Homo sapiens: one gene and its partner. The protein of the gene in region 1 purifies or fractionates together with the protein of each later gene. This does not show direct contact. Each region holds a gene or a part of one and is shown on either strand. Other genes may lie near its edges.

Evidence for each region. Proteins that work in one complex are often made in the same cells at the same time.
Region 2: the proteins of GALNT12 (region 1) and TANGO6 purify together in Homo sapiens (affinity purification with mass spectrometry; one large-scale study listed by BioGRID and IntAct). This does not show direct contact.

Annotation. Positions count from the first base shown.
Region 1 is NC_000009.12:98,834,393-98,839,086, forward strand, and holds part of GALNT12 (polypeptide N-acetylgalactosaminyltransferase 12), read left to right. Parts: intron 1-856; coding exon 857-974; intron 975-2,579; coding exon 2,580-2,756; intron 2,757-4,694. UniProt on the Homo sapiens protein: Catalyzes the initial reaction in O-linked oligosaccharide biosynthesis, the transfer of an N-acetyl-D-galactosamine residue to a serine or threonine residue on the protein receptor.
Region 2 is NC_000016.10:68,841,375-68,846,704, forward strand, and holds the start of TANGO6 (transport and Golgi organization protein 6 homolog), read left to right. Parts: upstream 1-2,156; 5' UTR 2,157-2,243; coding exon 2,244-2,337; intron 2,338-5,330.

The DNA.
Region 1 (4,694 bases):
TTACAGGTATGAGCCACCGTGCCCAGCCCTTTCCCTATTTCTGAATTCATCCTTTTGCCTGTGCAACTCTGGGACGTGCTGACCTTACAGTGTTCTGCCGTGTAGGCTGGAAGCCGTGGGCCGTTTCTGGTTAGTGCTGGCTTCCAGATAAACCTGGTGGTGGGTGGCGGGAAACAAGGCTGGCTGAAAAAGCAGCCTGAGGCTGGCTAGCTGGGTCCTAGTGGAGGAAACCACTCAAGAGGACCTGGCCCTCGGGGCACTTTCAGATGCCAGAGTTGCCTTTAGGGCCTTCTGCATACTGGCCTCTGAGTGGCATCTGTGAGTGCCTGCCTTGTGAGATCACACCTCCTCAGATGACCATGGCCTGGAGCCTGCCTTCTTCTCGGAACGTGGTCTCTTGCTTCTCTCTTCTCCTTGCTCTCTATGCTTCTAAATGTCCCTGGATTTCTCCCACCCTTAAGCCTTTGCTCATGCTGGAGAACCATTCCATTTCCCTTCTTCTTCTTGGCTAACTGTCCTTTGTCCTGCAGACCTTGCTTCCTCCAGGGAACCTAGTCCTGCCCTTTTGCCCCTGCCCTCCTCAGTGTTCTCCCAGGGCCCTGGCTGACCTTAGTTAACATATTTAGCACACACATAGTACTTACCTGCTGAGAAGCCTGGGAGCCACCTCAAGGCAGGGACCGTAGGGTACATCTATGCCTCCAGGCCCAGCCTAGTGTGGGGCACAGAGGTGAAGGCGGGATATGCTTAGAGATGACAGATGAACAGATGAAAGGGCTCGTGGTGGGAAGGTAGTTGGATAACTGTGATGGTTTTCTGCTGTCTACAGTGAAATAAGGATATCATACTTTTTTAGGTCTCCAACAATGGCTGGTGGGCTGTTTGCTGTGAGTAAGAAATATTTTGAATATCTGGGGTCTTATGATACAGGAATGGAAGTTTGGGGAGGAGAAAACCTCGAATTTTCCTTTAGGGTAAGTATTTCAGTCTTCTCTTTGGACATGTTCTTAACTGATTCTCTCTTTGGGAACGATGGGATTTGCTGTAAGAGCCTGGTGGACCCTGAAAGATGATGACACGCATATCCTATAAACATGCTTGCTTTCTTGTTTTAGCTTTTTAAAAAGTGTACTTTTTCTAGATTTGGGGCCAGCAAGGGCCTTGCGAGTCACATAGTTCTCTCTCACTCTATGGAGAGGAGGAAATGAAACCAGGAGAGAGGTGACTTGCTCAGGGTTAGGTTCCTCCTGATCCTGTCTTCTGGAGCCTTTACTTGATTAATTCCTTATGAAGTGGCCTCTTTATTTAGCACAGTGCCTTTCAAACTTTGACAGATGTAAGAATTTCTTTTTTTTTTTTTTGAGACGGAGTCTCGCTCTGTCGCCCAGGCTGGAGCGCAGTGGCACGATCTCAGCTCACTGCAACCTCCGCCTCCTGTGTTGAAGTGATTCTTCTGCCTCAGCCTCCCGAGTAGCTGGGATTATGGGCATGTGCCATCATGCCCGGCTAATTTTTGTATTTTTAGTATAGACGAGGTTTCACCATGTCATCCAGGCTGATCTCAAACTCCTGACCTCAGGTGATCCACCCGCCTTGGCCTCCCAAAGTGCTGGGATTATAGGTGTGAGCCACTGCACCCAGCCAACACATGTAAGAATTGCTGGGTAAACTTGTTAGAAAGACAGATTCACAAGCACAATCTAGAATTCTAGCTAGATTTGATAGCTTTAGGGTGGGACCAAGATTCTGCTTTTTGTAACAAGCCTTCCTACTGATGCTACTCTACATGGCCCGTGAAAACCGTATTGGAAAACTCCTAGCATTTCAGTAGATTTTCCAGTTAATGAAGTCTTACATTTTAAGCATCAAAACTTTGTGTAAATGTTGGTGCTTTTCAGTGGAAAATTAAGATTTTTAATAATATTTTATATGGTGTTCTGCCCTCATAAAAACTGAATAAACAAGAATTTGGCCTTCTACCGAGGACTCACGCCCTCTGTAATAAGTACCAGATGCTGTGCTTGGTTGTCCCATCTTTGGGAAAATGAGATATTCAAGGCTGTCAGTCCCAGTGTGAGATGGGCTCAGATGCCTTCGCCTGTTGAGTCTTTGGGTGTGCTTTTAATGGTCTCTCTGCCTCTTCCTTAGGTGTCAGGCTGCTCTACCTGTTTCTAGACGCTCTTCCTTTCCCCCTTCCAAACCTCTTTTCTTCCTTGCTGCTTTCCTATCTTCTGTGGCTAGGAGATCAGGTAATCAAGCCTGTGTTTTCTGTAATGAGTAAGTGGGTTGCCAGCGAGGTCTCTGTGGATGCTCCTGTGAGTCAAGTGCATGAGCTTTAGTGCATGGACTTTGGGGTCTTGGTTCCCACAGCTTATATGTTTTGGGGGCTGCTTTCTTGCTCTTTACCCACATTCTGTGTCATGAGTGTGCCGGGTAGGTGGCCTCCTGCCCGATGGAGGCTGAGCATCTTGGCAGTGTCCATCATGCCTTGCGTGTGCCTGGCCTCTTTGCTGCAGATACTATGGACCCGCAGCTCATCCCCTGCTCACCACCTGGCCTCTCCTTTTCTCTGTGTGCAGATCTGGCAGTGTGGTGGGGTTCTGGAAACACACCCATGTTCCCATGTTGGCCATGTTTTCCCCAAGCAAGCTCCCTACTCCCGCAACAAGGCTCTGGCCAACAGTGTTCGTGCAGCTGAAGTATGGATGGATGAATTTAAAGAGCTCTACTACCATCGCAACCCCCGTGCCCGCTTGGTGAGTTCCTCGGCCCACCTGCACTCCATCTGGCTTCATCTGAACAACAGCAGCTAATCGTGGCTTCCCCAACATAGTCGATCTGGTTCCAGAAATAGAGAATAAATTGGGTGCTCAGATACGAGTAAGGGGAGAATTTATTCCTCCATTTATAATAATTATATGCAGTCAAATCTTCTTATTTACAGCTGTTATAGTGCATAAAGCCACCACAAATGCTGAATTCATGAAAACAGAGCCATTGTTCTTAGGGGAAATACAGGGTTAGGTTCCTGCCAGACTTGGGGCACAGTTTTGTCAGCAGATCAATACAGAACCTTGTTTTCTATGTGTTTCTGTTCAAAGACACCTGTTTAACATATATCGTTGCATCATTAACATTGCACTCATGGCTAACAGCACGGTAACTCATGCCAGAATGAAGCTTACCTAGCACGTGTTATTTTCTCTTCATCACAACCTTCTTGCATTTAGGAACACTAGGTAGCACTTCAGCACTACGACTGGGGGACATTCTAGAATAGCTGGTGCAGTCACCAATACAAAGCAGGAAAAAATGTGGTGCCCAACAGATGGTGAAAAGAACACTGGTTTACAGGATGAGAGCTGAAACAAGAAGGCGGTGTGTGCCCTTGTTATATATCACCTGGAAATGGGAGTTAAGTGTTGGGCAACTCAAATTTTTTGTCCATGAATGTGTGTGAAAATTAGAAAACACCACAAGTATTGATTTGGAGGTTACAAATCAATTTTATTATAGCATGTAGGGAAATTCAGATACAGAACCAGTAAATAATGAGGATGGACTGTACCAACATAGATAGTTGGGGATACCTGGTGTCACAGGCCAGGCATTGTCCATGTGTTTTGGTTTTCCTCTTTGTAGCCAGTAGGGTGAGTCCACAAACACAGGGTACAAGTTAAGGCACAGTTCTTTACCTTAAAGCTATTGCTCAGGGACACATCCGCCTTATTAGTTAGGGGTCTGTTACCTCCCTCTAGAGCCTTCTTGTTAGCACCCTGGAAGCTTCCTTTTCTAAAACAGGGAGTCTGTTCTGCTTCCATTTCCAGATGGAAGGACTACTGGAGAGTGGCCCAGGCCCCCGCTGCTACTCTTTCTCACCATATGTCATGGTCATGGAAACCCCCCCACCGCCAGCCTAACAGATGTCTATCTTCCTCCCCACTCAGAGGCCTTGCTGGGCCCATCTCTCTGACCAATGGTGAAGGTGTGCCTGCAGTCACTGAAGTCTCAGCTCAGTTGGCTTGCTCCCCTGGGTCTCAGCCACACACTACAGGGACACTGGCCCATCCACCCACTGCACTGAGTCTGTCGGAGGCTGAGGTTCAGCCCAGACTGTGTCCTTCCTCATAGCGATTTATCTCAGGGACTTGTTTTCTGGTCCGGATCCTTGCTCTGCCTCTACCTCCGGGACCATTGTGGATGAGGGATCTGCCTCTTCTTTCCCAGGTCTTGGGCTTCAGATGAAACACAGTCCACTGCCTCTGCCCCAGCCAGCTCTGCATGCTCCATGGCAGGGTGCCTGCTTGCCCTGCATTTGCATAACTAGTAGGGCTGCTTGGCAATACAAGAAGGTCTTGCTCTAAGGCTTCTCATCAGGCCACTTCATGGAAGTCTCTTCTGAGTCCTTCCAGCAACCCTGCAGGGTAGCAATAAAATTCTCATTTTATAGATGAGAAAACTGAAGCTCAGAGAGACGCTGTTGGAAGGAACTTGTCCAGGCCCTGTGGCTGATAGGAGGTAGAACTGGGCTTGGGGCCTGTACTCTGCAGCGCACCTCTTGCTCTGCTCTGCAGAGCCCATGGGTTCTCAGCTGGACTCCCACTCAGCCCCTCTCTGGCTCTGGGCTCCATGGTCATTTGCTTCTGCCTCCTCCGTCTTGCCCAGCACCATAGAGTAGAAACACCCACTCTTTC
Region 2 (5,330 bases), on another chromosome or scaffold:
GAGGTCTCCATTGTGGAGCTCTGAGACAGTCTGAGAATTTTGAATTCAAACTTGATAGAATTTTCAAGGTAGGAGGATAGAAAATATTTTAGTTACCAGTCTCTTCGCTTGATTTCTAACACTGAAACATTTAGGCTGGCGGCGTGAGGGCCTCTACCTGTACTTTTGCACCAAACCCCTCAAGCCTTCCCCACACAGTGCTTTACCCCCGTCTCACTAAATGTTTAACATCTCAAAATACTCTTAAAATTTTTTATTTCCCAAATGAACCTGTGCCCATACACAATGGAGAAAACATTGTCTAATGACAAAACCTGGAAAGGAATACACAAAATAAAAAGAGCACAGTGGCAATTTTGTAGGTGATTTATTTCCCATTCAAAAATATTTTTAAGGCCAGAACCGGTGGCTCACGCCTGCAATTTCAGTATTTTGGAAGGTCGAAATGGGCAAATTGCTTGAGCCCAGGAGTTTGAGACCAGCCTGGGTGACATGGTGAAACGCCATCTCTACAAAAATTAGCCGGGTGTGGTGGCATGCATCTGTAGTCCCAGCTACTTGGGAGGCTGAGGCGGGAGGATCACTTGAGCAGGGGAGGCAGAAGTTGGAGTGAGCCAAGATCACACCACTGCACTTCAGCCCGGGTGACAGTGAGATTCTGTCTCACACACACACACAAGATTTTATTCGGAAGGCTGAGGCAGGAGGATCACTTGAGGCCAGGAGTTTGAGACAAGTCTGGGCAACATAGAGACTCCATCTCTAAAAAAAAATTTTTAGCGTTTTTCCCTCTCAGGCCCTGCATTCCAAAATGACAAAGAAAAGAAGAAACAAGAGTCATGCCAAAAAGGGTAATAGCTATGCGCAGCTTATTCTCGCCCAAGGACCGGACCATTAAGAAGTTTGTCCTTTGGGCCGGGCGCAGTGGCTCACGCCTGTAATCCCAGCACTTTGGGAGGCCCAGGTGGGCAGGTCACTTGAGGTGAGGAGCTCAAGACCAGCCTAGCCAAGAGGGCGAAACCTTGTCTCCACAAAAAATACAAAAATTAGCCGGGCATGCTGGGGCACTCCAGTAATCCCAGCTACTCGGGGGGCTGAGGCCAGATAATTGTTTCAGCCTGGGAGGCAGAGGTTGCAGTGAGCCGAGATCACGCCACTGAACTCCAGCCTAGGCGACAGAGCGAGACCCCATCTCAAAAAATAAAATAAAAATAAAGGTCCTGCCCTCAAAAACATTGTCCTGTGTCTGCGGCATGACTTTCAGACAACATGGTTTTTCAACGTCCCACCAGGATTTATGTAGGTGAAAACCTGTTTCCGATAATCTGAATCTCAAATCCATTCTGTTTTACATATAAAAACAGTTTGGCGGAGGGCATGGTTTTGATAGACCCTGAATTTTCGAGGAATGCATCAACCATGAAAACAGAACACAGATCGAACTTTTACTGGGAACTTTACTAAGTTCACTGAAAAAAAAAATCATATTACCCATAACAACATTTGTAGCTTTACATTCACGATGGATATATATGCGTGTGTACGTCTGTACTTAGGTTTTGTTTGTTTGTTTGTTTTGAGATGGAGTCTCGCTCTGTCGCCCAGGCTGGAGTGCAGTGGTGTGATCTCGGCTCACTGCAACCTCGACCTCCCAGCTTCGAGCGATTCTCCTGCCTCAGCCTCCCGGGTAGCTGGGACTACAGGCGCCCGCCACCACGCCTGGCTAATTTTTGTATGTTTAGTAGAGACGGGGTTTCACCATATCGGACAGGTTGGTCTCAAACTCCTGACCTTGTGATCTGCCCGCCTCGGCCTCCCAGAGTGCTGCGATTACAGGTGTGAGCCACCGCGCCCAGCCTGAATATTGTTTTTCTTATCCATACTTCACTGTAAGCAGATGGAAGCATCTGTCTGCTTCATTATGTCTGCCAGTGTTGAGTACCTGAGTATTTTCATATTGAAATATAGCTTTAATGATACATTACTTCTCTCTTCCTTCTTTACATAGCGGTTAATCATATTGAGCTTCTGAAATTGTGCGCGTGGGCAGATTAGCCATTTTTGGGTTCCCTCTTACCCCCCGGACTAAGCCGGGACGGAAAAAAAATGTGAAGGGGGCGTTCCCGATCGATTTGGCCCCGCCCCATAGTGTGCCCAGAGCCTTCTGCCACACTTAACATGGCGGCGGCGGCGCCCTGCCGAGGCGCCTGAGCGGGTCGCGAGCGTGGTGTTACACTCCAGTCATGGCGGCCCGACAGGCCGTGGGCAGCGGGGCTCAGGAGACATGCGGTCTGGATCGGATTTTGGAGGCATTGAAGCTGCTGCTGAGCCCGGGAGGTGAGAGGACGCATCTCCGCGCCGGGCTGGACCCGGGACTCTCAGGGCCGCCCGGCTTCCGGGGCTGCCCTGCCTTCCGCAGCGTGCGCCCCTTAGGCCCGCCTCGGGACCCTCCGCCCGCTGCTGGGGGCTTTGAGCATTGTCTATGCCCGTCCTCATTACGTTCTTGAGGAAACTGAGGCTCAAGGAGGGCGCGGGATCCGTTGACTGCTGATATTAGCCAACATCTCTTGAGCATTTGCCTTGTGCTGGGCTCTGTCAGGCGGGGCCGTTATTTCATTCAGTGCTTACTGCAGCGCTCTTGGGAGGGGGATATGGACCCAGCTCCAGAGAGGGTAGGGCGCCCGCGACGTAGAAATGTGAGGTCCTAGCCGCGTGAGGGCGCAGGGGCCAGCATGGACCCTTGAGATTTGTACGAAATGCCAAGAAGTCCAGACATCGGAAGCAGTGACGTTTGAAATGGGTTTGGGGAGAGTATTTAGGGGTTACCAGGCGCTTTTAATCTTTGTGGTGCGTGGACAGTTTCTTCCCAGTCTAAAATCTGAAGGGATATTGGGAGTGGTTGAAGCTGCTACTCCTTTTGCGACTGAGGACACCCAAGGCTCACTGAAGAAATTAAGTAACCTGTCCAAGATCACGTGGTCAAATTAGGGGCAGAACACGGACCTAGGCCCGAGATCTACTGAACCCCCTTCTCAGAATCAGACAAATTGTTCAGTATAGGGGCTCTGATGTTATCTGGAGCTTTTGGAAAGGACGTGGAAGATAGAGCTCTGCTTATCACTGGGGTGTATATTTGGGGGAAGGGATGGGAAGGGATCTGTAGAATTAGCAAGGGCACATGAAAGGCCAAAGGGGATCACCTCCCAGTCTCAGATTTTATACTTAAAACTGCAAAAACTTCTGCAAACATTACACCACACCAGCGGGAAGTGAACACAAGTTACTAATATTAGTAAATGAGTGCCTACTAAGTATCAGTCCCCATAGTAGGCTGTTGACATACACATCATTTAATCCTCATTACGATCCCCTGGGATCGGTACTACTTGTATTCAATTTTTACGGATGAAGGACCAAGGTTCAGGTACATTGGAAATTGCCCAATGTCAGACTAGTAAGTGGCAGAATTTGAATTTAGGTTATTTCCACTAAAAGTATGGTAAATATGCTACATTGTCTCAATTAAGAGTCAGACTGCAAAATAGAATTTTAAGTTGCTAATCGAGAGGTCACTTGTCTTCTAACGGCAACTCTTTTTTTTTTTTTTTTTTGAGATGAGGTCTCACTCTGTTGCCCAGGCTGGAGTGCAGTGGCACAATCTCGGCTCACTGCAACCTCTGCCTCCCAGGTTCAAGCGATTCTCCTGCTTCAGCCTCCCGAGTAGCTGGGATTACAGGTGCACACCACCATGCCCAGCTAATTTTTGTCTTTTTAGTAGAGACGGAGTTTTGCCATGTTGGCCAGGCTGGTCTCGAACTCCTGACCTCAAGTGATCTGCCTGCCTTGGCCTCCCAAAGTGCTGGGATTACAGGCCTGAGCCACTACACCTGGCCTGCAACTCTCTATTGTATGACTGAGAACACGTTTAAATAAGCAAAAATCCTGAAAGTAATCATCTGTTATGAAACATGTATATTATGCTTCATTTATAGAAGACTCTCTAATCTCTATGAGTATGTGGTGGAGTACACATATATGTACTCATTTAATTTACAGAAATTCAAGCATTCCTATTTGAAGAGGAATTAGTTCGTGAAATTATATTATTTTGTACATGTAGTCTTATATATTATATGAATCTGTCTACTATTTTATCATATTAGCTGCTTAGGGAATTTAAAAATATCTGTAGTGGCTGGGCGAGGTGGGCCATACCTGTAATCCCAGCACTTTGGGAGGCTGAGGCAGGATCCCAGGAGTTTGAGACCAGACTGGGCAACATAGTGATACTCTGTGTCTACAAAAAACTAAAAAATTGGCCAGGCATGGTACTACACACCTGTGGTCCCAGCTACTGGGGAGGCTGAGATGGGAGGATTGCTTGAGCCTGAGAGGTCCAAGTCTAGGCTGTGGTGAACCATGATTACACTAGTGTGCTCCGGCCTTGGGTGACAGAGTAAGACCCTATTTTGTTTTTTGTTTTTTGTTTTTTTTTTGAGACAGAGTTTCACTCCATCACCCAGGCTGGAGTGCAGTGGCATGATCTTGACACACCGGAACCCCCACCTCCCGGGTTCGAGCAATTCTCATGCCTCAGCCTCCCTTGTAGCTGGGACTATAGGCACCCACCACCATGCCTGGCTAATTTTTGTACTTTTATTATTTTTTGAGATGGAATTTCGCTCTTGTTGCCCAGGCTGGAGTGCAGTGGCGCAATCTCAGCTCACTGCAACCTCCACCTCCCAGGTTCAAGTGATTCTTCTACCTCAGCCTCCCGAGTAGCTGGGATTACAGGCATGCGCCACATGCCCGGCTAATTTTTTGTACTTTTAATAGAGACGGCGTTTCACCATGTTGGCCAGGCGAGTCTCGAACTCCTGACCTCAGGTGATCTGCCTGCCTTGACCTCCCAGAGTACTAGGATTAGGATTACAGGCGCGAGCCACCATGCCCAACCTCAAGAAGTCAGCTGGATTTTCATATCTGCTTCTCCAGTCTGTCATGATAGGTTGTTTTGACTGAAGTACATGAAGAAAACCTAGACTCACATAGATATGTAACTGGAAAAGGGAGGAGAGTTCAATCACCTTTTCAAATAATTATGTACATTCTTTTATACGATTCTTTCTTTTTTTTTTTTAGACGGAGTCTTGCTCTGTCGCCCAAGCTGGAGTGCAGTGGTGCGATCTCGGCTCACTGCAACCTCCGCCTCCCAGGTTCAAGCAATTCTCCTGCCCCAGCCTCCCGAGTAATTGGGACAACAGGCACATGCCACTGTGCCTGGCTAATTTTCTTTTTTTTTTTTTTTTTTTAGTAGAGACAGGTTTTCA